Linked DNA regions of Homo sapiens. The protein of the gene in region 6 interacts with the protein of the main gene of each other region in a pairwise test. Each region holds a gene or a part of one and is shown on either strand. Other genes may lie near its edges.

Region 1 (4,275 bases), on a different chromosome or scaffold from region 6:
AGTGGGCCGAGATCATGCCATTGCATTCCAGCCTGGGTGACAGAGGGAGACTCTGTCTCAATAAAAATATAAATAAATAAAGGCCAGGTGACTCATGCCTGTAATCCCAGCACTTTGGGAGGCTGAGGCGGGCAGACCACGAGGTCTGGAGATCGAGACCATCCTGACCAACATGGTGAAACCCTGTCTCTACCAAAAATAAAAAAATTAGCTGGGCATGGTGGTCCTAGCTACTCAGGAGGCTGAGGCAGGAGAATTGCTTAAACCTGGGAGGCAGAGGTTGCAGTGAGCCGAGATTGCATCACTACACTCCAGCCTAGCAACAGAGTGAGACTCCATCTCAAAAAAAAAAAAAAAAAATTAGACAGGTGTGGTGGCATGCACCTGTAGTCCCAGCTACTCAGGAGGCTGAGGCAGGAGAACCGCTTGAACCCGGGAAGCAGAGGTTGCAGTGAGCTGAGATCATGCCACACTCCAGCCTGGGTGACAGAACGAGACTCCGTCTCAAAAAAAAAAAAAAAAAAAGCCTGAGCTTAATGCATGTCCACATTAATGCATAATGCATCTCCTTCATCCTCATCCTAATCACCCACTGGACAGAAGTAGAAACTGAGGCACAGAGAAGTCACACATCTCACTCAAAGTCACACCAAGGTTAGAAAAGTCAGATTCAAATCTATGCGGTCCTGTACCAAAACCTGGGGCCTTAACCAAGATGCCCTACTCAGGCCTCATACCTCCTATCCCCACCTGACTCCTCACCTCATGGGTACTATTTCGCTTAGTGCCTAAGGTCTTGATCAGAACCTGGTTGGACTCCGTCCCCAGCTGCCGCAGGTCCCACAAGTTGACGTTGCGATCTCGGGAGCCCGACAGACAGAGTGACCCACCCTGGAAAGGGAGCAAGGTGATGTTGTCAGGGCCACCCTGGCCCACCCTGCCTGGCCCCCCACAGACCCCGTCTCACCTGGAGCAGCAGCACTGAGTCAACGGAAGCCACGTGGCCTTCGGCCAGGCAGAAGTATTCGACCCAGCGCCCATCCTCTGCCCAGCGGGACAGGTGCTGCTCCAGCGCAATGCAGGCTGCCGGCCAGTCAAAGTTCTTCTCTGTGGGTTACCACGAGTAGGGTGCCCAGTGGGCAGGGACCCTAGCACCCATGCCAGCTGGCCAAGCCCAACCCTGGCTTCCAGGGAGCCCACACTACACCAGACTTGGACAGAACCCCATGGAGATCCCTACTCCCACCCCAAGCCGACCCAGGCTGTGGTCTTGGGACCACCTGCCTGCCCATTTCCCAGGCAGGTCTAGGACTACTCACTCCAATTTCCAGAAATTGGGAACTGGGGTCTCAGAACTACCTCTCCAGGCGCCATCCCCCAACCCAAACTCAGGGCAGAGCAGTCTCAGGATGTTGAGGTCTGACCTCAGGCTCAGCATAGAAGCTGGGACCTCATGACTAACCCTTCCTGCCTCAGCCATCTGAACCAGACCAAGGGGGCTGTTTCTCAAACAGTATCTGGAAACCAGGGAGCCTTGTCAAGATGCAGAATGCAAGCCCCAGATGCAGATTCTGTGATATGGACGGGGTCCAAGCATCTATGTTTATTAAGCTGTTTGGGAGAGTCTGACCTGGGGGTTGGATGGCAACACCTTGAGAATCACTGATCCCGGAGTGATCCTGATTCCTCTCTAAGCAGAATCAAAGCTTCCAGGTTAAGGGTATCAAACACCCAAGCTGTAATACATCTTGGCTTAAGGGCCTGAGGATCCAGCTGTATCAGGATCAACAATATCGATTCAAAGGTCCCAAGCTGTCTTCCCTCAGGAACCAATCAACTCAGGGCCAAGAGCCACTGTCTCACCCCTAACTGGGTCAAGGCTCTAGGGCTCAGGAGTTTTGACATCAACAGGTGCTGTCTCAGCTTCTAAGCTGGACTCAGAACCTGAGGATCCTTGGGCTCACTTTGAGCCCCAGCATAAACTCCAGAGCCTAAGACTTCAAGTCCCTGTGTCAATCCCCAATCAGGGGTCAGTGGCTTAGTACCACAAGACCCCAAGACTGAGGATATTTGGATCCTGAGTCGTCCAGGAACCACAGCCCCATGTTAGGGTTTCACAGCCTCAGGACCCCAAGTGCCTGACTGCCTCGTGGTCCACCCAGAGGTCCTCAGGGGCTTCGGCACCACCAGTAACTACCTTAGCCTCCAGCCTGAGCCAGGACAGCCACGAAGCCTGCACCAGAGGCTGCATCCGGAACACCCCATGTACCTCTTCCCCGCCCCAAGCCTGACCTGGGCGGGCGCCCCCGGCCCCCGGTCCCCGGCCCCCGGCCCCGCGCACCTTCCACCACTGGGTAGGGCGCGCGTACGCGGCGTAGCGCGCGTAGCCTCCAGGTGACATGGTCAGACACGAGGTCGCGGAGCGCGTGGCACACCCGCGACAGGACGTGGAGCACGAGGCGGGCGTCCAGGTAGGAGCAGATCTCGAGCAGCAGCTCCGGGGGAAGGCTCAGAAGGCCCGGCTCACTTACGGCCGAAACCCTGGACGCGGCCCGAGGCTCCGAAGCGCTCGGGGACGCGGCGGGTGTGGATAGCTGCGAGGGGCGCGAGAACGCCAGCCCGGATTTTGGCGGACTGAGAACGCGGGCCACGTAGGCCTTGGCCTGCGCGTCTGGGTCTGTCTCTGACTCTGGGTCCGAGTCATCGTCCCAGGTGCGGGAATCATCGCACCGCCCTAGGGGAAGCTCCATTGCGACCGGGTGGGCGCTGCCGGCCTCGCGTCTTGTCTCCTAGGCAGCACGAGGGCACTTCCGGCGCTGTCTGATGACGTTTATGCGCCCACCGGAAGCGACGAAGTCAGACACTGGCTTAATACAGAACATCGCCCCGCTTACAGGGTCTCTTGCAACTGCGTCGGCCTTAGGCTGGAAAATGCAGGTTCCTGTTTCTGCGCTTTTTAAACTAGCCGATACCGAGAGCCAGCCAACTCTAGCTAAAAACGAAACTCAAGCCAGGCGGGGTGGCGCGCGCCTGTAGTTCCAGATACTCAGGAAGGTGAAGGGGTAGGATCCCTTGAGTCCAGGAGTTCGAGACTGCAGTGAGCCATGGTTGTGCCACTGTACTCCAACCTGCGCAACATAGTGAGACCCTGTCTCTTTAAATTAGACATAAAATAAACACTGCTTTAACGAAGGCATCTGTTATATGTGACACTGAGCTTAGAAACCCAAAGGCCCCTTTCCGAGTTCAAGGAGTAGAGATTGGAACTCTTGCCTCTTTTCCCAGAGCCAGAAATATGCAGTTACACTGCAGAGGCATCAGTTAAGTGACTTTTTTTTTTTTTTTTTTTTTTTTTGAGAAAGGAACTGGGGCCTCAGAACTACCTCTCCAGACCCCATTCCCCAACCCAACCTTGGAGGACAGCAGTTCAGTCCTCCAAGCGGAGTGCTTGGCTCATTGCAACCTCCGCTTTCTGGACTCAAGTGATCCTCCACCTCGGCCCCCCAGGTAGCTGGGACTACAGGCGCGCACCACCACACCCGGCTAATTTTTGTATTCTTTTGTAAAGACAGGGTTTCACTACGTTGTCCAGGCTGGTCTGGAACTCCTGAGCTCAAGCCATCCGCCCCCAACTTGGTCTCCCAAAGTACCAGGATTACAGGCGTGAACCATCGCGCCTGGTGGAAAGCTACCTTTTTCTTTTTTCTGAGACGGAGTCTCACTCTGTCACCCAGGCTGGTGTGCAGTGGCGCGATCTCGGCTGGCTGCAACCTCCGCCTCCCGGGTTCAAGCGATTCTCCTGCCTCAGCCTCTAGAGTAGCTGGGAATACAGGCACGCGCCACCACTCCTGGCTAATTTTTGTATTTTTCAGTAGAGACGGGGTCGCACTATGTTGGCCAGGCTGGTCTCAAACTCCTGACCTCGTGATCCGCCCGCCTCAGCCTCCCGAAGTGATGGGATGACAGGCGTGAGCCACTGCGCCCGGCCTAACATCACACTTACTAAAACAGCATGTTGGCCGGGTGCGGTGGCTCAGGCCTGTAATCCCACCACTTCGAGAGGCAAGGTGGGTTAATCACTTGAGGTCAGGAGTTCAAGACCAGCCTGGCCAACAAGGTGAAACCCCTTCCTACTAAAAATACAAAGAATTGGCCGGGTGTGGTGGCAGGCACCTGTAATCTCAGCTGCTCAGAGGCTGAGGCAGGAGAATCACTTGAGCCTGGGAGGCGGAGGTTGCAGTGAGCCGAGATGGCATCATTGCACTCCAGCTTGGG
Region 2 (3,500 bases), on a different chromosome or scaffold from region 6:
AAGATAGAAGAAGGTCAGAGACATATATTTTTGAATTAGAAGTGCCAGTGTGAACTCAAAAGGTATTTTATATTTAAATACATGTAGGTATATGTAAGTGCATGTGCATATGTACATGTACACACACGTGCACATCAACACTAGGCTTCCTACGTCTGTTTGCTGAAAAGATCTAGAAATAATAACCAACCTAGTGGAATTGATCTTCCCTGGTTTCCAGATTGTCATCTTGATACAACATTTTCCACAAAAGAAGCCAGGGTTTTTGGAGAAAGACTGATTGTATGTCCAATGCAAGGATTTTAAAAGATGAGCCTGGTGGTGCATCCTGGAAACCTAACCAGATAGTAAGAAAACTGACACTACTTTATGTCGGAAGTATTGAGGAACCAATATGAAGAGGCTTCCAGTGGCCAAAGATGTGACAGTTAGAGCATCAGTGTGGATAATAACAGGAATGGATTGAAATGCATCGAATATGCTTGTCTCTCTGAGTCCATAATACTAAAAAATTAATTGGTCACCTTTGAAGGATAAATAGAAGCCCATATCATTGTTTTGAAAAATTGTAAATAGAAGATATGAGCATTTATCCTGCCTTTTCCATGTACTGTATCATGGGGGATCAAATAATAGACGGGGAGGTTTTTCCTTATAGAAGTATCCCAGCTAATGAATTAAGAAGGGTTGATTGAATTTTAATATCACCACTTCGTAACCTCAAATGAATGAACAGATCAAGACATTGAGTAGCAGTGCTGCTGACATCACAAAAGAAACACCCAGGCATTATTGCCTCCTGATGGGAGAATGCACTACCTTCTATGAAATTATCTTGCTAAATTAATGGAATCTGTATCTCATGTAGCCTCTACATCCAATTTACAGGAGATCAGAAGACAGAAGAACATGTTAAACTACATCATGTGGGTACAGTCAGCAAATTTCAGACGATGGGAAACTGCAGGTCAAACAACCCAGGTTCTTCAACAAATAAAATGCAAGGGAAAAAAAAAAGATGGAGGAGGATCCTGTAGATTAAGAGATTTAGAAGGCATCAAAACAGACTCGCCTGTTTAGGGATGTATATTTCATGGTAATACTAAAGAGAAAAGCAAGAAAGTGATGACCATAGAGGTGTGGTTTGTGATTATTGTTGCGGGGGGCCCCGGAGGGCTTCTTGGCCGTTTGCAAAGTTTTCTTTCTTGGCAAGAGTGTTAGATCCAGGAATGTGCCTTGTAATGATTCATTAAGCTACTTGTTTGTTTCACACAATTTTCTAGATTGATATATTTTACAACTCAAAGGTTAAAAAGTAGATGAAACATAGATCATTCTGCAGATTTTCATTGACCTCTCTCAAGATTGGCAAGTTGTTTGTTTCTTCATGATGTCAGCCAGATAAGTTTCATCACTGTCTCTCTCCTGCTTCTTATAATCCCCATATGTATTTGGGATATGTGGTGAAGAATTTTATCCACTCAACAAGTGTTATGGAACATCTACTATGTGCCAGATGCTATTCTAGGCACTAGGGATACAGCAGTGAACAACACAAAAAAAATCCCTGCCTTCATGGGGCTTATACTGTAGTGGGCGAGATGGGCACTAAGAAATTGGTTACATTAGAAAATGAAACATGCTATAGAGAAATATAATCGGGGAAGAAGGCAGGGGAGTGGTGAGGGGGTACCATTTAAAATAATGTAGGGGGCCTTACTCAAGGGGACATTTGAGTTGAAACCTAGGAGAAGGTGAGAACAGACTGCAGTCTCTGGAGAGAATGTTCCAGGCAGAAGAACAGGGCACTAAGGTGAGCACCCGCCAGACAGTAAAGGAACAGCTGGAATGCTTGGGTGGCTGGACTGAGGGGGAGTGGCAGGAATTGGGGTCAGAGAGGTAATGGGGCGAGAGTTCAAGAGACCTTTTAAGTCCTCCTTAGGACTTGGGCTTTTTCTTGGAGCGAGGTGGGAAACCGCTGGAGACTTGGAGGCGAGGATTGGGTGGCGTGACCGTACGTGTTACTGCAGTGCTCTGGCTGCCGTATTGAGGATGGACTGTGGAGGGGCCAGGTCTGAAGCGGGAAGCTGAGGTAGGAGGATGTTGCTGCAACACAGGAATGCTGATGGTGGTGTGTGGGAGTAATTGGGAAGTGTGCACATTTTGGATGTAATTTGAAGATAGTACCGATAGCATTGGCTGACAGGTCTTAAGTATGGCTTATGAGAGAAAGCAAGGCATCCAGGATGACTCGCAGGTTTTATGCCTCACTAGAATGATGGAGATGCCTTGATCAGAGATGAGGGTGACTCTGGGAGGGGAAGAAAGATGAAAGTGCTCAGCTATCTGAGTGGGATGTGGAGTAGATGGATAGTAGTTGATACAAAGGTCTAGAGTTCAAGAGAGAACTCTGGTCTGGAAAATAGGAGTTTTCATAATATGTGAAACCGTGAGGAACTCACCATGGCAGTGAGTGCCCAGGCCCAAGTGGCCCAAGCAGGGGGACCAGCAAAAGGTTCTAGATGCCTCCCCATCTTCTGAACCTCCCCCAGCTCAATTCCTTTTTCAGGCTGCTCTTCCATTTCCTTTTATGAAAGATACAGGCAAGTAAGTCTGAAGCCAGGCAGATAACTGTTCCTCAGATTTCAGTACAACTAATTTAGTATTATATTACAATTCAAAGACTGCTATTTCCATTATAATTATTATAAGAGAATGAACCAATTATATTTTTCTTGTTAAGCAAACTACATGGTATGTTAGTGTAATGTGAAAAATAGATAACTGAAAGTTTTCAAATCTTAATTCTTACTGACTTTTTGTTTCCAGAAAAGCTTTGACCTGGAAATACTACGCAAAAAAAATTCTTTACTACCTGCGGCAACAGAAGATCTTAAATAATCTTAAGGCCTTTCTTCAGCAGCCAGATGACTATGAGTCGTATCTTGAAGGTGGGTCTTTTCCCATATATGTGGACAGTAGTATTTCTGTAGGTAACTGATTAGTTTTTTAAGACCAGCAGAGGGAATTGTGTTCCTTGTGGTAAAGAAGTGAAAAAGCAAATCATGTTGCGTGGGCTTCTGCAGGTTGGATTATAGGGCCTGATCAATGAGGTAGTTCAAACTATTAAATTTAGAGCTAAGATTTTATCAAAGTCCACTAAAGAAATAGTGTTTTTTAAAGATGCATCATTGGCTTAAAATGTGAGAGTGATACTTTAGCTAATGAAGTAAATTCCTGTTTTTCCGAGCTTTAATGATCATTTCCAAATCAGAAGTAAATGTATCCAATTTTGTCTCCCTGTGACCTTGAGTAAATCCCTTAACCTCTCAGGTTGGAGTTTATTGAGGACAGAATGTTCTTGGGCATCAGTGAGTCTGCTTGTCCGTAATGAAAGGTGAGAAGGAAGAAGTTGAGTGGACAGGCAAGATGAAGGGAGTGGAGAATCTTTTTGTTCTTATTAAGTTGAACAGGAACAAAGTGAGACTTCCATTTTTTTT
Region 3 (3,500 bases), on a different chromosome or scaffold from region 6:
TGGGTGTGGGAAATGGACCGGTACAAGTCCAGTCCCAGTTCCATAACTTACTCGCCATAAGACAAAACATTTATCCAAATAGTTCTGGTCCCCAGTCTCCTTCAGTATAAAAGAAAGCACTCATGACCTGCTCTGCCCAACCGCAGGGCTGATGTGATCAGTTCTTAATATCATATTTACAATGTGCTTGCCACAAACATAGGGAATTAATATTTCACTATGCTTAAAAGATGAAAATACAAAATTGCTTTTATATTTAAATACTGTATATTAATAGTAACATTTTACAATTGAAACTCTAAAATACAAATATTCTGGACTATGTTACAGGTGAAAAATCAGAACAGGGAACCTTAGTACTGTAATATCCACAAGTCCAAGATTAGTTCAAAGTGATGACTCAATTGTCTTTCGAATGTGCTGACTGATAGCAAAGAGGCAACATAATTTACAGACTTTACCAAAGATAAAAGTATCTACATTGATTTTTTGAAAACACAGTTCAAATGGAGTATCAGCAGCTCACTAGACTTAAACTTTCAAGAAAAACAAGAGGTGACAAAGCTGGAGTCTGAGAATAAACAATCTCCAATGTTTGCTACAAATCAATTCCTCCTAAGGAAGAGGGAAAGTTATCAGCCTCCTGAGCCTAGAATTTAACTCCCAACCGACAGCACCAGCAGATCCAAGCAACACCTCCAAGGCTAAGCAGCAGAAATTAAATGAAACACCTATCTATGAATCAGAAGATTTAATTTAAAACTAGAGACTAAGGAAGGTTATTAGCACCCATTGATCATTTTCTATATACCTGGCACCTGTGTCAGAATAACCCCAGGAGACAAGGTACTACCCCCACCTTCCAGCGTCCTGATGAGCCAACTGGGGAGCAAAGGTAATGAAATTTCACTCAAGGTCACATGGCTAATAGGAAAATCTCAGACATGAACCCAATTTTGCCTGTTAAGTCTGTGCACTCTCTATGACATTACTGCACCAAATGTCCTGGATACCCATTACATTTTTCCAATTCTATAATAAAGTATGTCCCCAGGGTTTCATAATGGATGTCATGGTGGGCAAAATCTAGCTAAATGGTGAAATACCTCTATTTATTATTTGAAATTCAATAAAAACAGGAGGAAGGAGAGAAGAAAAGCAGTCCCTAGCACTGAAGGATGGAGGGCTAATCATTCAAGATCAAAACAACTCACACCATATAAGGAGAAAATAGTTTTCATTTGATTATATATCTACAAGGTTATACATTTTTAAATGTTCAGCCTAATAAGCTGTAACCAGAACTTTCCAACAAAATAGTCTTATCTGCAATATAAAATGGTTTAGGTTTTCTCATAGAAACAGAAATGTAGGATTTTTCTTACCTCCCTTTTCATTAACTGACCCTACTCTTTTAAATTCAAATTAAGAGTAAGTAAATCCCTTTGCAGAGGTGCCATCAAAAACACTATAAAGCAACATCAGAAGGCTGGGCATGGTGGCTTACGCCTGTAATCCCAGCACTTTGGAAGGACAAGGTGGACAGATCGCCTGAGGCCAGGAGATTGCCACCAGCCTGGCCAACATGGGGAAATTCTGTCTCTACCAAAAATACAAAAATTATCCAGGCGCGGTGGCGCATACCTGTAGTGCCAGGTACTCAGAAGGCTATGGCATGAGAATCACTTAAACCTGGGAGGCGGAGGTTGCAGTGAGCCGAGATCACACCACTGTCCTCCAGCCTGTGACACAGCAAGACTCTGTCTCAAAAAAAATCTGAAAGCAAAACAATTTTTTAACCCTTAAACAGAAAATACTTCTTCACAGCATTAAATCAAGTTCAATAACCAGCAAGTCTAGAGAACTATTGAAAAGTTTTACATAAATGCAAAACTACTCTGAAACACAAATCTTATTAGATGTAATGAGAAAAAAGAATCCTAGACTGCAAAGTTATCTGAATTCCTAAGTTGTACATACATTTTTCTCTAAACAGAAAACAGCCCAAGTCCCTAGTCAAAAGAAATTGTCAACTTGCGATTGTCTGCACGAATAGGGAATGTCATAAATCATGAGTGGAATCAATTACGTACATGTATTTGCACATGGGTATGCCAGATGTTCTCAAACTGACTCTTCATAATAAAACAGTAACTCAGAAGCATCAGGAAACTTGGCACCTTCCAGCTCTGATGCTCTGCTCCCAAAGCCATGGCCGTTCAGTCGGACACAAGACTGAGGGTAAACTACCTTCCCTCTGCTTGCTGAGTATGAAACAATGGATGAGGGGGTGAGGGCAAGAGGAGAGGGCAAGGAGCAAGGCACAGAAAAGCAATAAGGAAATTAATACCTGTGGTTTAAAAGACCTTCCAGTAGCTGTGACTATCTGACAAAAGAATTTCAAATTCCCATGCCATCAGAGCTCTAGATGATTTATTCCAGACCACATCTGGGAGAAATAATTATAAAAGTAAAAATGTACCCAGCATCCGAACATTTAGACCCTATCCTTAAGGAGCTTACAAGATGTAGCAAAAATATACTGGAAAAGGTAACTAAAGATTCTCATTGAGAGAAATTAAGAGACGCCAAAGAGTACAGTGCTAAGTATTTTCCTTCTTAATCCTTTTGGTGAGAAGGAAAAGGGTAAGCATGATTAATGACAAGGATGCTTTATATAACCAAGAATGTCAATACAACCTACGTGACCAAACTTTGGTCAAGTCAGCAGGTGGAATTTTTAATGCAAAGCCCAACGTTAACAACCTGGGAGAATATTTCGAACAACACAAACACTTACTAACATCTCCAAAACTGCACTTTTCACAATGATTGGGGTTTCTCTGACTCCTCCAAGAAAAGAGGTCAAATTCTTTTTTTTCTCTTCTACCTCAGTGTTTGGCCCATAGAAAGTGCTCAAAAATGGCTGAGGCTGAGGAAAACCAAACACAGGCCGGGCACAGTGGCTCACGTCTGTAGTCCCAGCACTTTGGGAGGCCAAGGCCGGTGGATCACCTGAGGTCAGGAGTTCGAGACCAGCCTGATCAACATGGTGAAACCCTGTCTCTACTAAAAATAAAAAATGAAGACGGGCGTGGTGGTGCATGCCTGTAATCCCAGCTACTCAGAAAGCTGAGGCAGGAGAATCGCTTGAACCCAGGAGGCGGACACTGCAGTGAGCCAAGATCACGCCACTGCACTCCAGCCTGGGCAACAAGAGCAAAACTCTGTCTCAAAAAAAAAGATAAAAGAAAAAAAAATCAAACATAATATTCTAACAGCAAGGATTTTTACTCATGCTTTTTATTTATCATTTTACATGAAATATAAGCCTAACTATACACTACGTATAAATGACTTGGTTCTGTATGTGGGGCCTAGATTGGGGATCTAATACAACACGTGAATTTTTCTTGGTAGCTAGGTCTTGGCATGGCTCAGCCCTTTTAAATCCATTTCTCATTCTCCAATATCCTTCTACCCTATCCTGACCCACCAGC
Region 4 (3,500 bases), on a different chromosome or scaffold from region 6:
TGATATCAAAAGCCATTATATAGACCCGAAAGCTGGTGCTCTTTCGTGACAGGGCTTTCCAATGCTCATCATTTGGCATGTTGTCCAGAGACTTGTGCATTACAGAAACATTGTGAACCAGAAGAGACAGTCGTTGCAAAGGCACATGGTTGCTATCAGTTAAGACTCTTGCCATCTCAGCTGTAAAGTCACAAAAATCCAAGGCAAGTGAGTGCAGATTCACAAATCGCTCCAGTTCAACTGCAGTAATAAGAGTGCTGTTACCAGGAATATTATTGTCCAGTAAACTGAGGTGCTCCATGGTGTTGGCAACAGCATTAGAGAGAGATGACAGTGATGTTGGGGTTACTATTTCCAGCATAAACCCACAGGACAGCCATTTCAGTTGCCTACTATTACTCAGGATTTCTTCAAACAGTTGCTGAATTCTATAAGGAAAACACATGCCACAGTGATCCCATTAACATTTAGTTCTAATCTTTTAACACTGACTTTTGAAAATAGGCAATGAAAAGCATGCAATTTTGAGATCTATTTTTCCTCATTAGGTAATTTCGATTCAACCCACAGTAAATACCATTAAAATTCACATTAAAATATAATGAATAAGGTATATTAAACATAAAGATCTATTAAACACGTAGAAATATGTTCCTCATCCAAGAAAAGCACCACTTATACCCGTTTAGTAGAAAAGTAGGATAACATACAATTTATGTTATAGCAAAGGCAAGTAGAGGAATAATTTTAAATAGCAATAATTATCCACTAAGTTACTTGATTTTTCTTAAAGATTTATGAGATGGAATGGCAGATGCTGATCACTGTATTTCACCATTAAAACATTTCCAGGACCTATGTTCCTTTTAGGAAAAAAATCATTACTCTTCTGTTTGTATCTCATAATTTCTTAGGAAAAACATATTATTAATAGTACAACCTCCTTTCCATTAACCATATAACTTACTGTTTAATTTTTTTGCCATCAGGGTCCACCTTGCTGAGGTATGTATTTGACAAACTTCCTTGCTGTTGTAGAACACTTATGTCTCCAAAAAGACTAAACTTCTGAAGGTTCCTACAAGAACAATCATTTAAAATGATTTGCTAAATAATTTATACTTAAAAAATATAAATATAAAAAATAAGAATATGCAAAGGGGATATTCTAGGAAGGTTTCTATTTTATAACTCAATTAGAATCCAGTTAAGTACTTTCAGATTGCTTTATACATATATTCAGATTTTTTTTTTTTTTTTTTTTTTTGAGACGGAGTCTTGCTCTGTCACCCAGGCTGGAGGGCAGTAGCGCGATCCCGGTTCACTGCAGGCTCCGCCTCCCGGGTTCACACCATTCTCCTGCCTCAGCCTCCCGACTAGCTGGGACTACAGGCGCCCGCCACCATGCCCGGCTAATTTTTTTGTATTTTTAGTAGAGATGGGGTTCAGATTTCTTTATACATACAAAGCAACATGATACAGGAGAAGTGGCATAAGCTTTAAAGAACAAGGACCAGGGTATAAAGATTGGTTCAGGAACTAAATTTATAATGACCATGGAAAAGTCTCTTAATGTGCGTGAGACTCAATTCTTCATCAGTAATAACAATACCTACCTTATAGGGTTTAAGGATAAATGACACAATGATATATGACAAACTATGTAAGCTCTAAATTTTATAGAGATGATAATTACAATATAAACATGTCTCAAACCAGTTAATTTAGTCAACATGTTAAATGCTCCAGGGTAAGTCACTGCCCTGAAGATATCTACTCAGTTAAGAAATATTCCTTAACTGAAATCTAAAGAGAACCTTCTCCAGTTTTATGATCAAACCATACAGCTTATGAACAACAGAAGTAGAAAACTATGTAAGGCCAGGTGCGGTGGCTCACACCTGTGGTCCTGGCACTTTGGGAGACCAAGGCGGGGGGAATCGCTTGAGGTCGGGAGTTCGAGACCAGCCTGGCCAACATGGCAAGACCTTGTCTCTAATGAAAATACAAAAATTGGCTGGGCGTGGTGGTACATGCCTGGAATCCCAGCTGAACTGGGAGGCGGAGGTTGCAGTGAGCCAAGATCATGCCACTGCACTCCAGCCTGGGAGACAGACTCTACCTAAGAAAACTAGAAAACTATGTTAAAATCTTTTGGTTTTAGATAATTTTAGCTACAAAACATATAGTTTTCTGATAGTAAAATTGTAAATAAAATAGGAGAAAACTGGATGAAGAGAAAACTCCTAAGTCCAATAATAACGAACTAGATATTTCATTTATAACATAAAACTTAGGGATAATTTCAATTAAAAAATGTATCATCTACAACAGTGATACAAGATTTAAATAAATGAAAAATACCATTTCTTTTTTTTTTTTTTTGGACACAGTGTCTCACTCTGTTGTTCAGGTTGGAGCGCAGTGGTATGATCACGGCTCACTGCAGCCTCAACCTCCTGGGCTTAAGTGATCCTTCCAGCTCAGCCTCCTGAGTAGCTGGGACCACAGGCATGTGCCACCATATGTGGATAATTTTAAATATTTTGTATTTGTTGGACTCTCAAAGTGCTGAGATTACAAGTATGAGCCACCATGTCTGGCCTGAAAAACACCATTTCTTGATGGTATGTCACATTTTCTCAAGTAAATCACCTTAATTTCACGGAAAAGCCCAATGATTCTAAAATTTAGCTTGAGGAATAATCATTAATTCGTTTATTCATTTAACCAACAATTCCCTGAGGGCCTACGAAGTACCAGGAACTGTGCTATATACTAGAGACACAATAGTGATTCAGTGCTGTGAAGGACAAGTACATGGTGCTACATATCATGGGCATATTTGACACTGTAAGGGAGAGCAGGCGTCCCTAAATTGATTTAAATGGATCTTTTTTTTTGTTTGTTTGAGATGGAGTCTCGCTCTGTCGCCCAAGCTGGAGTGCAGTGGCACGATCTCGGTTCACTGCAAGCTCCGCCTCCCGGGTTCATGCCATTCTCCTGCCTCAGCCTCCCGAGTAGCTGGGACTACAGGCGCCCGCCACCATGCCCAGCTAATTTTTTGTATTTTTAGTAGAGATGGGGTTTCACCGTGTTAGCCAGGATGGTGTCGATCTCCTGACCTCGTGATCCACCCGCCTTGGCCTCCCAAAGTGCTGGGATTACAGGCGTGAGCCACCGTGCCCGGCTTTAAATGGATCTTAAGAATAAGTGGAAGTTAACCAGGAGAAGTAAGGTAGGGAGACAGCATTATAGGGAAAAGGAAAAGCATTTGCAGCACTTGAAGAGATCAAAGCGAGCTGAAAAGAATCCAGAGTGACTGGAGTACAGAGAGTAAGTGAACATGAAATGATGACGTAGAGGTAGACAGGGTTCTATGTCAAAGAAAAAATTTTGTAAGCTGCTCAACAATCATTTTAAGAAAAGAATAGGCTGGGCGCGGTGGCTCACACCTGTAATCCCAGCACTTTGGGAGGCTGAGGTGGGTGGATCACGAG
Region 5 (4,143 bases), on a different chromosome or scaffold from region 6:
GCACGCGTTAGCATTGAGTCCGGGTTCAGCTTAGTAGACTAGAGCTGTTCCTGCATCCCCTGGGCCACCAGCCTGGAAAAGGGTAGGGTTCGGAGGCAGCTAGAGGCAAGCCCTGAGCAGGTACAGTCACGGACACCCACCCAGGTCGCTTGGCCAGAAAGCTTGGGGGACCCTCTGCTGCAGCCTCACCAGCCCCTCCCAGCAAAGAAAAGATCTTGAGCCAAGTTAGACTTGGTTTATCGCCGTGTCAGTCACTCACGGAGCCTTCATTTCCTCTGCGTGGGGGGAATAATGTCTACCACTGGGGTTGTGAGGAGCCTGCAACGGGGCCTTCCACAGGCAGTCCTAACCCGCTTTCCCTGGAAACAAACGGGACCAGCCTGCTTCCAGTCCAGAAGGACCGACTAATGGGCCGGGGCCTTGGCTCCCCGCAGCCAGAGGGAGCTAGAGTCTGGGCTGGGGAAGCGTTTCCCTTTCCCTGCCAGCCTCCCCCGCAGCTCCGTGACTGCCCCTGGCTGTGCCAGCTCGGCTCCTTTGTGCCAGGGGAGGGAAGTAAGGAACTTAAATATGTTGGGTGCAGCCAGGTGTCACACCGAGCCCGGGCCTCCTTCAGGTTTGTGTGCCCTCATTAGTCACCCCGTCAACCTCTGCACCCCCAGTTTTGTACATGAAGAAACTGGCTCCGGCAGCTCAGGTGACTGGCTGGTGACTTATTTGCTGTCAGACCCAGGACAGATGTCTGAACCTTGCTGGGCGTCACTTCCTCATTTGTCAAGTGGGAGGAATTGTTACCTTCAAGGTGGTTATAAGGATTAGGTGTTTAAGCCTCAAAGGTGTTGGGTGATCTTTTCTTCTAAGAATCTTTGGAATAATTCTGATACAGGGAAAAAACAAAGAGCGGACTGTCCCCCTGCCCAGCCATCCTCAGCCATTCCTCCCGACCTGAGCTGAGTGCCAGAAGAACCAGATTCAGTAGACGTTCATCAGTACCTACTATGTGCCAGGTGCCACTGTGTCATTTAATCCTCTTACCCTGTTGGATAAGAAAAATTTAGCACATTTTATAGAAGAAGAAATGAGGTTGCAAGAGTTTGAAGTATTTGAGCTGGGGTCACATGGTTGGACGAGCTGAGCGGCTCAGCAGAGTGCTGACAGCAAAGCCCTTTGCTCTTTATGTGACAGCAGGGCCCCTTGCTTGATCAGTACAGTGGCCTGGGAGGTCCACTTCACACCTTGCAGGTTTGGGGCATTAAGCTCGGTTCTCTTACAGTAAGAATGGAACAACTTCAGGACATGTTGTGCCATTCGCCTCCCCCCAACCCCCACCCATGTCACTCTAGTCTAATTCCTGGGCCTTGTTAAGCCCATCAAAATAGCCTTGTCCAGTCGGGGCCCAACCCCAAGTCCATCTTCTGTTTTCTTCCTACCAGCTCAAAAGAAAGGTGGGGTCACTACGCTGTTTCCTTCCACTCCTGTCGTGCTGCCAGCAAATAGCAGCTATGAACTTGGGTGGCAGTAAACTGGCTGAGTCTAGTTTTCCATGAACAGCCAGGGCCAGTTTGTTATATGATCAAGGGGGTGTTTTTCCTCAAAGGCAGCACGGGACTGGCAGAAGCTCAGTGAGAGGCTGGTTGAATAGCTCTGTGTTCTTGCCTGGGCCGCTCTGCCCATGAGGCTGGGACCATGGAGGGAGCCTGGCCTGGTGGTTCAGTGTCTATGTCTGTGTCTGGGGTGGGGGTTAGCAGATAAACACAAGATGTATTTGGGACATACTTACACTAAAATATTATTCACTGTTTATCTGAAATTCATATTTAACTGGGCAGCCTATATATTTGCTAAAATCTGGCAACCCTAGACTGGGCAAATCATACCACCTCGTGGAGCATCAGTTTGCTAATTTGAAAAATTAGGCTAAGCCACCCTCCTTAGGAATACTGTGTAAATCAGTAATTCATCTACTCCTGGAGTCTGGTTTGGCTCAGCTGACCTGAGCACCCTGGCTTCTCCACCTCTGGCTCCCCACCCTCTCTTTCCTCCGTAGTTTCCCAGGCCTTGAGGGCTGCTTGCTAGGCCTAATGGAGGGGTGAGCTGATTGCTGCATCTGGAAGCCTTTTCCCAGAGCCTGACCTTGAAAATCCAGGCCCAGCTGGACCCACCCAGCACTTAATGACTACCAGTACGGAGGCCCCACTTCTTGGTGTTTGCATGAAGCAGCCCAGGACCTGTGAGGCTAAGAGGAGGATTAGCAATTGTTTCCCTCATGATTTTATTGTCTCCTGGGGACCCTGCTTTGGGCGGTCTGGATGTCTGCCTTGGGCCTAGTTTGAGGCGCCCCGAAGGTGGAGCCATCTTGGTCTCGTAATTTGCTCTTCCCTGCCCCCCAAGAGGGAAGCCAGAGCTAGCGGGGCCAGCACTGCTCAGGAGGCAAGGTGGCCTACCTGTCGCACACCCGGAGGAGGAAATCATTGACCAGGCTCTCGTGCCGGCTGCAGATGCTTCTCTGGAAGGCACTCTTGAGCCAGTCCTCAATGCTGCACACCTGCACGCGGCTGGAGTGCCAGCAGATGGAGAGGCTGCGGAGTGCCGGGCCCAGGAGGAAGTTGTCCTTCTGGAGTTCAGTGAGGGAACGGAAGTGCAGCAGGGACCAGAGTGCGGGGTCCTCAAACACGTCGTGGAGCTGGGAGCAGGTCCTGGCAAGGCTCTTCCTGCTGTCCTTGTCTAGGAAGGAGAAGAGGTGCAGCAGGCACTCCCGGTTGAGCTGGGTTATGTGCATGGTGAGCAGTGGCCACATGTGAGTGCAGCTGCAGCCGGGGGACGGCTGACCTGCCTCCTCTCCTCCTCCCCGACTCTGGGCCGGTGGACATATATGGTTGAGGAATGGTGTTTATTTTTGGCTAACAACTGGTGCTGAAGCTCTGCGGAGGGGTGAGGGAAGAAAAGCCAGGACCCAGACACATGTGCGGCAGTCTGTGGTTCGGCTTATGTTCAGAGGGATTGGAGGTCCTGGCAGAAAAGGAGCCTATTGAAGTTACTTTCCTTAAAAGGGATTTTTTTTTTCCCTTTAGCTGACAATGGTGTTTAGCAGTGAGCACTTTTGGCTTTTCCCAAGGCGTTTTCATTGGCAGTGGTGGCGGCCAGGCCAGCTCTGTCTGGCTTTGCAGTCTGTACTTAGGGGGAAGGAGTGTAATTGTAAATGTTAACTGTTTTGATTTTCTAGTACATCAGTGTGAATCTTTTGCTCCACCCTTACTAGGAAGAAACCTGTTGCGTGTGGAGAGCTAAGGGTGACGGTTGTGAGTTGTGAGCAGAGTCCATGGCTGCTGCCTCATTCCTGTTATTTTTGTGCCATAGAGTAATTGTCTCCAGGCTAGGCTGGTTGGCCTTCAAGCCCTGCTGCCTGCCACTAGGCAGGGGGATTTTCCTGGGCCTCCCCAACAGCTAGATTTTTACCCTGAGTTGTTTCATAAAAGAATTTTACTGAAGTAGCTGCTTTCCAAAGTTGTGTGTCTGTGTTTTATGTTTTATTGGTGCTTTGTTGTTGTTGTTGTTGTTTTTGTAGTTTTGGTCAAGCAGTACTTTCTGTGTTTTAAATTTAAATTTACTTGGCTTTACATTTTCTCACTGATAAGGCCTTGTACTATGTATAACCTGTACTTCCCAAAATGTCAGGATGGATGAGGTAGCTCTTAATGTGAAACTGCTTGAAACAATTTTAAGTTCAGTATTTTAGTCCATCTTTGCCTTTAAGTTGACCACACACCATCCATTCTATGAGTGCCCTCCGTTCCCTCTTGGAGAAGCCAGTGGGCCACCCCTGCCCTCTCTGACTCAACTCTAGGCAAGGTGCCTGGAGGTACTATCCGTGAAGCTCCCCCTTCCTGAGTACCCGAGGCTTCACGATATGGCAGACCCGTTTCCTCATGCTGCTTCACTCCCAAACCCAGGACCCAACCTTAACTCTCCTGCTTTGAATCCCAGTCGTTGTTTTTTGGTTTGCTTGGGGGATGCTGATATGGTGCAGCTGTATAGGCCACGTTCTGCCTAGGCAATAGTGAGAAGAGAATGGTTTTTCCTCTGCCAGCCCAGGGACCACCACCTCAGTGGTTACTTCTGTTTGTTCTCCCATTTGGAATAAGAGGG
Region 6 (3,500 bases):
ATTTATTGGGCATCTGTACTGTGTCTACCTATGCAAACACTTCCCTAGGAAGGATGATCTACATGTAGAATATCTGGATCGCAGGTTGGCTTATATACCTAAATTTTGATAGATACTGTTAAATAGTCTTCTGTAAAGATACCACTTCTAGAGCATGGTGGAATTGAATCGTGACTGTCTTTCTTAGATTTATAATTTTGAAACGGCTAAAGTCAAAGGAATATGTAACACTTTGTTCCCATTTCTGTCCTTATCTATTCCAGTCCCCTTTCAGGTAGCAATTTATCCTTTCAGTATTTTGTAATACAGGTATTAACAAGTAAGTATATTTTTTTCCCACATTCTTTTTTTTTTTTTTTTTTTTTTTTTTGAGACCAGAGTCTTGCTCTGTCGCCAGGTTGGAGGGTAGTGGTATGATCTCGGCTCACTGCAACCTCTGCCTCCTGGGTTCAGGTGATTCTCCTGCCTCAGCCTCCTGAGTAGCTGGGACTACAGGCACACGCCACCATGCCCAGCTAATTTTTGTATTTTTAGTAGAGACAGGGTTTCACCATGTTGGCCAGGATGGTTTTGATCTCTTGACCTCATGATCTGCCCACCTCAGCCTCGCAAAGTGCTGGGATCACAGGTGTGAGCCACCGCGCCCAGCATTCTCCCCCATTCTTAAGGTAGCAAACTATACATTTCTATGTTTTTTTTTTTCCATATAACAAAATGAAAGGTGATATGTCTATGTTAGTTAATATATAGCATCTTTTTTTTTTTTGAGATGGAGCCTCGCCCTGTTGCCCAGGCTGGAGTGCAGTGGTGTGATCTCAGCTCACTGCAGCCTCTGCCTTCCGGGTTCAAGTAATTTTCCCTGCCTCAGCCTCCCGAATAGCTAGGATTACAGATGCCCACCACCACACTGGCTAATTTTTATATTAGACAGGTTTTCACCATGTTGGCCAGGCTGGTCTCCAACTCCTGACCTCAGACGATCTCCCTGCCTTGGCCTCCCAAAGTGCTGGGATTACAGGTGGAGCCACCATGCCTGGCTAACCTGAATTTTTTTGTGTTTGTTTGTTTTTTTGATCTCACTCTGTTGCCCAGGCTGGAGAGCAGTGGCACAATCTCGGCTCACTGCAGCCTCCACTTTCCAGGTTCAAGCAATTCTCCTGCCTCAGCCTCCCAAGTAGCTGGGATTACAGGCACTCGCCACCACGCCTGGCTAATTTTTGTATTTTTTAGTAGAGATGGGGTTTCACCATGTTGGTCAGGCTGGTCTTGAATTCCTGACCTTGTGATCTGCCCACCTTGGCCTCCCAAAGTGCTGGGATTACAGGCATGAGCCACCGAGCCTGGCATTTTTTTTTTTTTTTTTTTGAGACAGACACTCTGTCGCCCAGGCTGGAGTGCAGTGGCACGATCTCAGCTCACTGCAACCTCTGCCTCTTGGGTTCAAGTGATTCTCCCGCCTCATCCTCTCGAGTAGCTGGGATTACAGACACCCGCTACCATGCCCAGCTAATTTTTTTATTTTTGTAGAGATGAGGGTTTCACCATGTTGGCCAGGCTGGTCTTGAACTCCTCACCTCAGGCGATCTGCCTGCTTTGGCCTCCCAAAGTGTGAATGTTTTTACATGTGTTACTGGCCATTTACATTTTCTGCATTGTCTGTTTTCATTTCTCTGTTTTCCTAATGGTCTTAGAAAAATAGTGATAAAATATACATAACATTGATCATTTTCACTTTTTGAACGTGCACCATTCAGTGACATTAATTACATTCACAGTGTTGTGCAGCTATCACCACTAAGCATTTTCAGAACTTTATCATCCCACACTGAAACTCTGTACCCATTAAACTGTAACTTCCAATTTCGGTACACCCTCCCCCCTCAAAAAAAAAATTGGTACACCCTCCCCCCTCAAAAAAAAAAATTACGCTAGGTAAACACTATTCTACTTTCTGTATCTGAATTTAGCTATCCTGGATACATAATATATGGAATCATACAATATTAGTCCTTTTGTATCTGGCTTATTTCACTTAGCATAATGTTTTCAAGGTTCATCCATGTTGTTGTCTAATGAGCTTAAAAAATTGTGGTAAAATACACATAACAAAATTTACCACCTTAACCATTTTTAAGTGACAATTCAGTGGTATTATCTAATAGGCTTTTTATAAGAACTCTTTAAAAGTTTCTACCAGTTTGCTTGTCTTACGTTAATTCATGTTACGATTTAGAGGCTTTATTTTATCTAGTTAGATCTCATTCTTTATGACTTCTGAATATGTCTTGCAATTAACGTATTCTATTTTATACTAATGAAAAATGTTTCTAAAAGGATCTTTGCTTGTAGTCGAATGCCTGGTACATTCAAATGCCATCCAAAAGCTGGGGGTATAGCAGTGAACCAAAGAGACAAAATCTCTGCCCTTATGGAGTTTATGGTCTGAAGGGGTGGGGAATATGCAACATTAGAAATACATCAAATGGAAAAACTATGGAGAATAAAGAAGGGAATGGGGAATTTAAAGGGGTGAGTAGGTGAACAGTTAGCTGTTTTTAAAATAAAGATGGTCAGGAGATGTCTTACTGAGAAGATAATCTTTTTTTTTTTTTTTTTTTTTTTTTTTTTCTTGAGATGGAGTTTTGCTCTTGTTGCCCAGGCTGGAGTACAGTGGCACAACTTTGGCTCACTGCAGCCTCTGCCTCCGGGCTTTAAGCAGTTCTCCTGCTTCAGCCTCAGTAGCTGGGATTACAGGCGCGCGCCACCACGCCCGGCTAATTTTTTGTATTTTGAGTAGAGATGGGGTTTCACCATGTTGGCCAGGCTGGTCTCGAACTCCGGACCTCAGGTGATCCGCCTGCCTCAGTCTCTCAAAGTGCTGGGATTACAGGCTTGAGTCACCATCCCTGGCCGAAGATAATCTTTTAAACAAAGACGTGAATATTTGGGGGAAAAGAATTCTGGGATTTGGGAGCAAGTACAGTGACCTTAAGACAAGAGCATGCCCTGCCTTTTTAGGAAAGGCAAGGAGTTTAGTGGAAGCTAGAGCAAGAAGTGAGTAGATAAGGTCAGAGTTAAAGGGTTGGGTGATGTAGGGCCACTTCTGAGAATGAGAAGTGCTTGGTTTTTGGGGTTTTTTTGTTTGTTTGGTTTGTTTGTTTGAGATAGGGCCTCACTGTGTTGCCTGGGCTGGAGTGCAGTGGTGCAGTCATGGGTCACTGCACCTTCTACCTCCCGGGTTCAGGTGATCTTCTCACCTCAGCCTCCCGAGTAGCTGGGAGTACAAGCACATGCCACCACACTTGGCAAATTTTTGTATTTTTTGTAGAGATGGAGTTTCACCATGTTGCCGAGGCTAGTCCGGAACTCCTGGGCTCAAGCGATCTGTCTCCTTTGGCCTCCCAGAGTGCTGGGATTATAGGTGTGGGCCACCACACCCAGCCGAGAAGTTTTTTTTTTTTTTAAGCCTGTTTGTATTGAATATATATCATATTTTGAAG
Region 7 (3,500 bases), on a different chromosome or scaffold from region 6:
CATCATCCCAAACAGAAATTGTAACCATTAAGAAATAAGTCTCCATTCCCATCTATGCCTTGGTAACCTTTATTCTGCTTTCTTTCTCTATGAATTTGCCTGTGTTGGGTACTTTCATGTGAGTGGTATCATAGAATATTTATCCTTTTGTGACTGGCTTATTTCATTTAGCATACTGTCAAAAAGGTTCATCCATGTTGCAGCATGTGTCAGAATTCATGTCTCTTCTCTTCTCGCTTTGCTTTCCTTTCCTTTTTCTTTATTCTTTCCTTTCCTTTCCTTTTCTCTTTTCTTTTTCCTTTCCTTTTTTCTTTTCCGTCCCATCATGTCCAGGCTGGAGTGCAGTGGCGTGATCTTGGCTCACTGCAGCCTTGAATTGGCAGGCTCAAGTGATCCTCCCATCTCGGCCTCCCAAGCAGCTAAGACTACAGGCATGTGCCTCCATGCTTGGCTACTTTTTGTATTTTTTTGTAGAGACCATGTTTCACCATGTTGGCCAGGCAGGTCTCGAACTCCTGGGCTCAAGCGATCCACCTGCCACAGCCTCTCAAAGTGCTGGGATTACAGGCATGAGCCATTGTACCTGGCCTCATTGTTTCTTATTGCTGAATAATATTCCATTGTATATATATACCATATTTTATTTATGCAATTACCTGCTTATGGACACTTGGGTTGTACATTATTTTTTATAATGCACTTGGTTCCGCTTAAATTTTTCTTGCCTTCAACACTTTCCAAAATGCCCCAGCACTCTTCTGGCTTTCATCCTTCTGATCCAAGAGAAAAAAGTTAGAATCTGAGTACTCTGCTTTTGAAAAACTGCACACTCGTATGTTATCGAGCAGCTTTTTCCATGTCCTCCATTTACTGTATTTATTTAACTAGAAACTGTCCACTCTATTCCAGTCACTGGTGGACAGAGGACCAGCCTTAGTGCTCACTTCATATGGCATCTTGACATAATAAATCTTGGGACGTCCATGAGCTAGCTGACTGTGCTTCGTGTTTAGCTCTTCACCTACTTATTTTTCTTTTTTTAGCGGGGAGACAGAGCCTTGCTTGGTCATAAAGGCTGGAGTGCAGTGGTGCAACCTTGGCTCACTGCAACCTCTGCCTCCTGGGTTCAAGCAATTCTCATGCTTCAGCCTCTGGAGTAGCTACAGGCATACACCACCACACCTGGCTGATTTTTGTATTTTAGTAGGGATGGGGTTTCTCCATGTTGGTCTGGCTGGTCTCAAACTCCAGGCCTTAAGTGCTCTGCCCGTCTCAGCCTCACAAAGTGCTGGGATTACAGGCATGAACCACTGCGCCCGACCCTTACCTAGTTTTTATTCCTAACTTTCAGAGGTCATAACTGATAATGGTGCAACTGCACAACTCAGTCGCTGGGAACCCATAGTTACAGTTAGGACCAGGGCACAAAATTCACTTACATGTAGAAATTCTCAGCACCCTGCTTAGACAGTTGCATGTATCTTGCACATATATCAGACTGCTTGATTCACAGCAGGACACATCAATTCATTGTCACCCAGCTGTTTGCTCTGTTCTTAAATGTTAGATGCTAAAATCTGGCTTAGTTAGTGAAGAATTAAATAAATGAGGTGAGAAGTTATCTTTTCTGTGGTAGTTGATGTCGTTAATGATATAATAAACAGTACCAGCACACTCCTGTTCTAAGGATGAACCATTCAAATAAATAAATAATAAAAGGACAACATAATAGGGACTTACTAGGTCTCAGGCACTTTGCTAAGCTCTTATGCATGAACTCATTTCATAATACCTTCTGAAGTAGGTGCTACTATTTTCTTCATTTCTAGTTAAAGCAACAGAAGCATCAGTAGGTTGACTCAAGTTGACAGCTAGAAAATGTCAGACTCTAGATCGAAGTGTAGGTCTATCTTACTTCACAACTGGAGCGCTATTTAACACACCTTAGGATTGTAGATTGTTTTGGTCAGAGATGATTTCTTATGTTCTAGTTGAGGAGTCGGCAATATTAGGCACCAAGTGAATAAATGAGTCATGGAAGAAAAGGGGGCACTGTTAAGAACCTTTTGAAGTCTCCTTTTATATGATAATCTTTTTAGCACTGTTCTAGTGTGGTAGTTTATAACTTATGGGGGATAACATGTATTAAAGAAATTGTTCATATTATTCTGGTGTGTTTACAGGTGGTTGCTGTATATGGAACTTTATCTGATTTGCTTTCTGTGGCCAGCAGTAAACTCGGCATAAAAGCCACCAGTGTGTATAATGGGAAAGGTGGACTGATTGATGATATTGCTTTGATCAGGTAACCTTCACCTTTTTATAAGCTGTCAACAGTGTGCCTCAACTTCTTGGTGCTATGCTGTTTCCCTTAAGCAGTAATTTAATCACTGTTAAGAGTACAGGATTTTGGCAAGTGTTTACCTAGAATTTGCTCTTTGGAATTTAAATCATTTGGGCTTAAGGTGAATTGATCAGCTAGAAAACCCTTAGTACATTTCAGTATACTGATAGTCTTTCTGCATAGTTCATATATAGCTATGAGGAATTTCTTCTTTGTGGTACTAGAGAAGGATCTAGTAAGACGTGCAGTTTTTAACATTAAAAATCTAATTCATCTCTTCACTTTTATATGCGCCTGCTTGTTAATCATTTCCTAAGAATGCTTTGCATTTTATAATCATTACAAAGGCCAGATTTTGTAAAAACTTTATAAATATGATAGAATTCTAAGTAGTGATATCACCAGTGATCCACCATAATTATAGGCTTATGTTTGTACCTTAAATATCTCAGGCAGATTTATCTCTTTAAAACAAGTGTGTAGTTCACCTTACTTCATCTTCATGAGGTCAGAGAATTTTGGAGCAGGAAGATGCTTAACAAAGAAGATGGTAAAGGGAACACAAATTAAGTATTGACTATGCCACTTATGTTATCATTGCTTTGCCTGAGTTATACCATTTAATTGGCAAAACATGAGTTTTTTTTATCAGTGATGTGAAGATAATGATGCTTTAACCTATAATGATATACAAAGTCTCTGTATAAATCTAGATCAAAATGACCTTTCAGTATAATATACTGCTTTGCAGTTAATCAGTTCTAGACCCTTCATTTTACAGATGAGGAAACGAATTACCTGTGAAGCTGAGGACTCACTCAGGTCATACAGCTAGTTGGGTTTTGTTAATGAAAACAGATTTTTATACTAATCTGAAAAAGTAAACTGGCATGGTGAACAAGTAGGAAATACTATACACTACATTTTAAATCCAAATAAATTAGGATAACTTCTTAGTTTTTCAATATGTATCTCCCAGCTTCTTTCAGTTTCTAAGGAAAACTGAGTCACATTGTTGGATGATGATCCTCATCAACCTAACTTTCTTCTTAACAAACACGAACTCTGCTTCTTAGAAAAATTTAACGTGTCCTGTGATGTCCTATAGGAAATAAAAACGTCTACAATGGAAGGTTATAATTGAAGCCTTCTGAGC

What was found.
Region 1: the proteins of SKP1 (region 6) and FBXW9 interact in binary tests that used the Homo sapiens proteins (3 or more experiments, as listed by UniProt).
Region 2: the proteins of SKP1 (region 6) and FBXO21 interact in binary tests that used the Homo sapiens proteins (3 or more experiments, as listed by UniProt).
Region 3: the proteins of SKP1 (region 6) and MTUS1 interact in binary tests that used the Homo sapiens proteins (3 or more experiments, as listed by UniProt).
Region 4: the proteins of SKP1 (region 6) and FBXO33 interact in binary tests that used the Homo sapiens proteins (3 or more experiments, as listed by UniProt).
Region 5: the proteins of SKP1 (region 6) and FBXL22 interact in binary tests that used the Homo sapiens proteins (3 or more experiments, as listed by UniProt).
Region 7: the proteins of SKP1 (region 6) and KCTD9 interact in binary tests that used the Homo sapiens proteins (3 or more experiments, as listed by UniProt).

The regions. Positions count from the first base shown.
Region 1 is NC_000019.10:12,693,832-12,698,106, forward strand, and holds the start of FBXW9 (F-box/WD repeat-containing protein 9), read right to left. Parts: upstream 2,801-4,275; 5' UTR 2,751-2,800; coding exon 2,342-2,750; intron 1,108-2,341; coding exon 968-1,107; intron 892-967; coding exon 763-891; intron 1-762. UniProt on the Homo sapiens protein: Substrate-recognition component of the SCF (SKP1-CUL1-F-box protein)-type E3 ubiquitin ligase complex.
Region 2 is NC_000012.12:117,176,971-117,180,470, reverse strand, and holds part of FBXO21 (F-box only protein 21), read left to right. Parts: intron 1-2,829; coding exon 2,830-2,951; intron 2,952-3,500. UniProt on the Homo sapiens protein: Substrate-recognition component of the SCF (SKP1-CUL1-F-box protein)-type E3 ubiquitin ligase complex.
Region 3 is NC_000008.11:17,791,095-17,794,594, forward strand, and holds part of MTUS1 (microtubule-associated tumor suppressor 1), read right to left. Parts: intron 1-3,500. UniProt on the Homo sapiens protein: Cooperates with AGTR2 to inhibit ERK2 activation and cell proliferation. May be required for AGTR2 cell surface expression. Together with PTPN6, induces UBE2V2 expression upon angiotensin-II stimulation.
Region 4 is NC_000014.9:39,401,434-39,404,933, forward strand, and holds part of FBXO33 (F-box only protein 33), read right to left. Parts: intron 1,079-3,500; coding exon 968-1,078; intron 429-967; coding exon 1-428. UniProt on the Homo sapiens protein: Substrate recognition component of a SCF (SKP1-CUL1-F-box protein) E3 ubiquitin-protein ligase complex which mediates the ubiquitination and subsequent proteasomal degradation of target proteins. Probably recognizes and binds to phosphorylated target proteins.
Region 5 is NC_000015.10:63,596,044-63,600,186, reverse strand, and holds the start of FBXL22 (F-box and leucine-rich protein 22), read right to left. Parts: upstream 2,801-4,143; 5' UTR 2,795-2,800; coding exon 2,442-2,794; intron 1,034-2,441; coding exon of another isoform or gene 994-1,033; exon of another isoform or gene 1-993. UniProt on the Homo sapiens protein: Substrate-recognition component of the SCF (SKP1-CUL1-F-box protein)-type E3 ubiquitin ligase complex. Promotes ubiquitination of sarcomeric proteins alpha-actinin-2 (ACTN2) and filamin-C (FLNC).
Region 6 is NC_000005.10:134,163,451-134,166,950, reverse strand, and holds part of SKP1 (S-phase kinase-associated protein 1), read left to right. Parts: intron 1-3,500. UniProt on the Homo sapiens protein: Essential component of the SCF (SKP1-CUL1-F-box protein) ubiquitin ligase complex, which mediates the ubiquitination of proteins involved in cell cycle progression, signal transduction and transcription.
Region 7 is NC_000008.11:25,444,934-25,448,433, reverse strand, and holds part of KCTD9 (BTB/POZ domain-containing protein KCTD9), read left to right. Parts: intron 1-2,183; coding exon 2,184-2,305; intron 2,306-3,500. UniProt on the Homo sapiens protein: Substrate-specific adapter of a BCR (BTB-CUL3-RBX1) E3 ubiquitin-protein ligase complex, which mediates the ubiquitination of target proteins, leading to their degradation by the proteasome.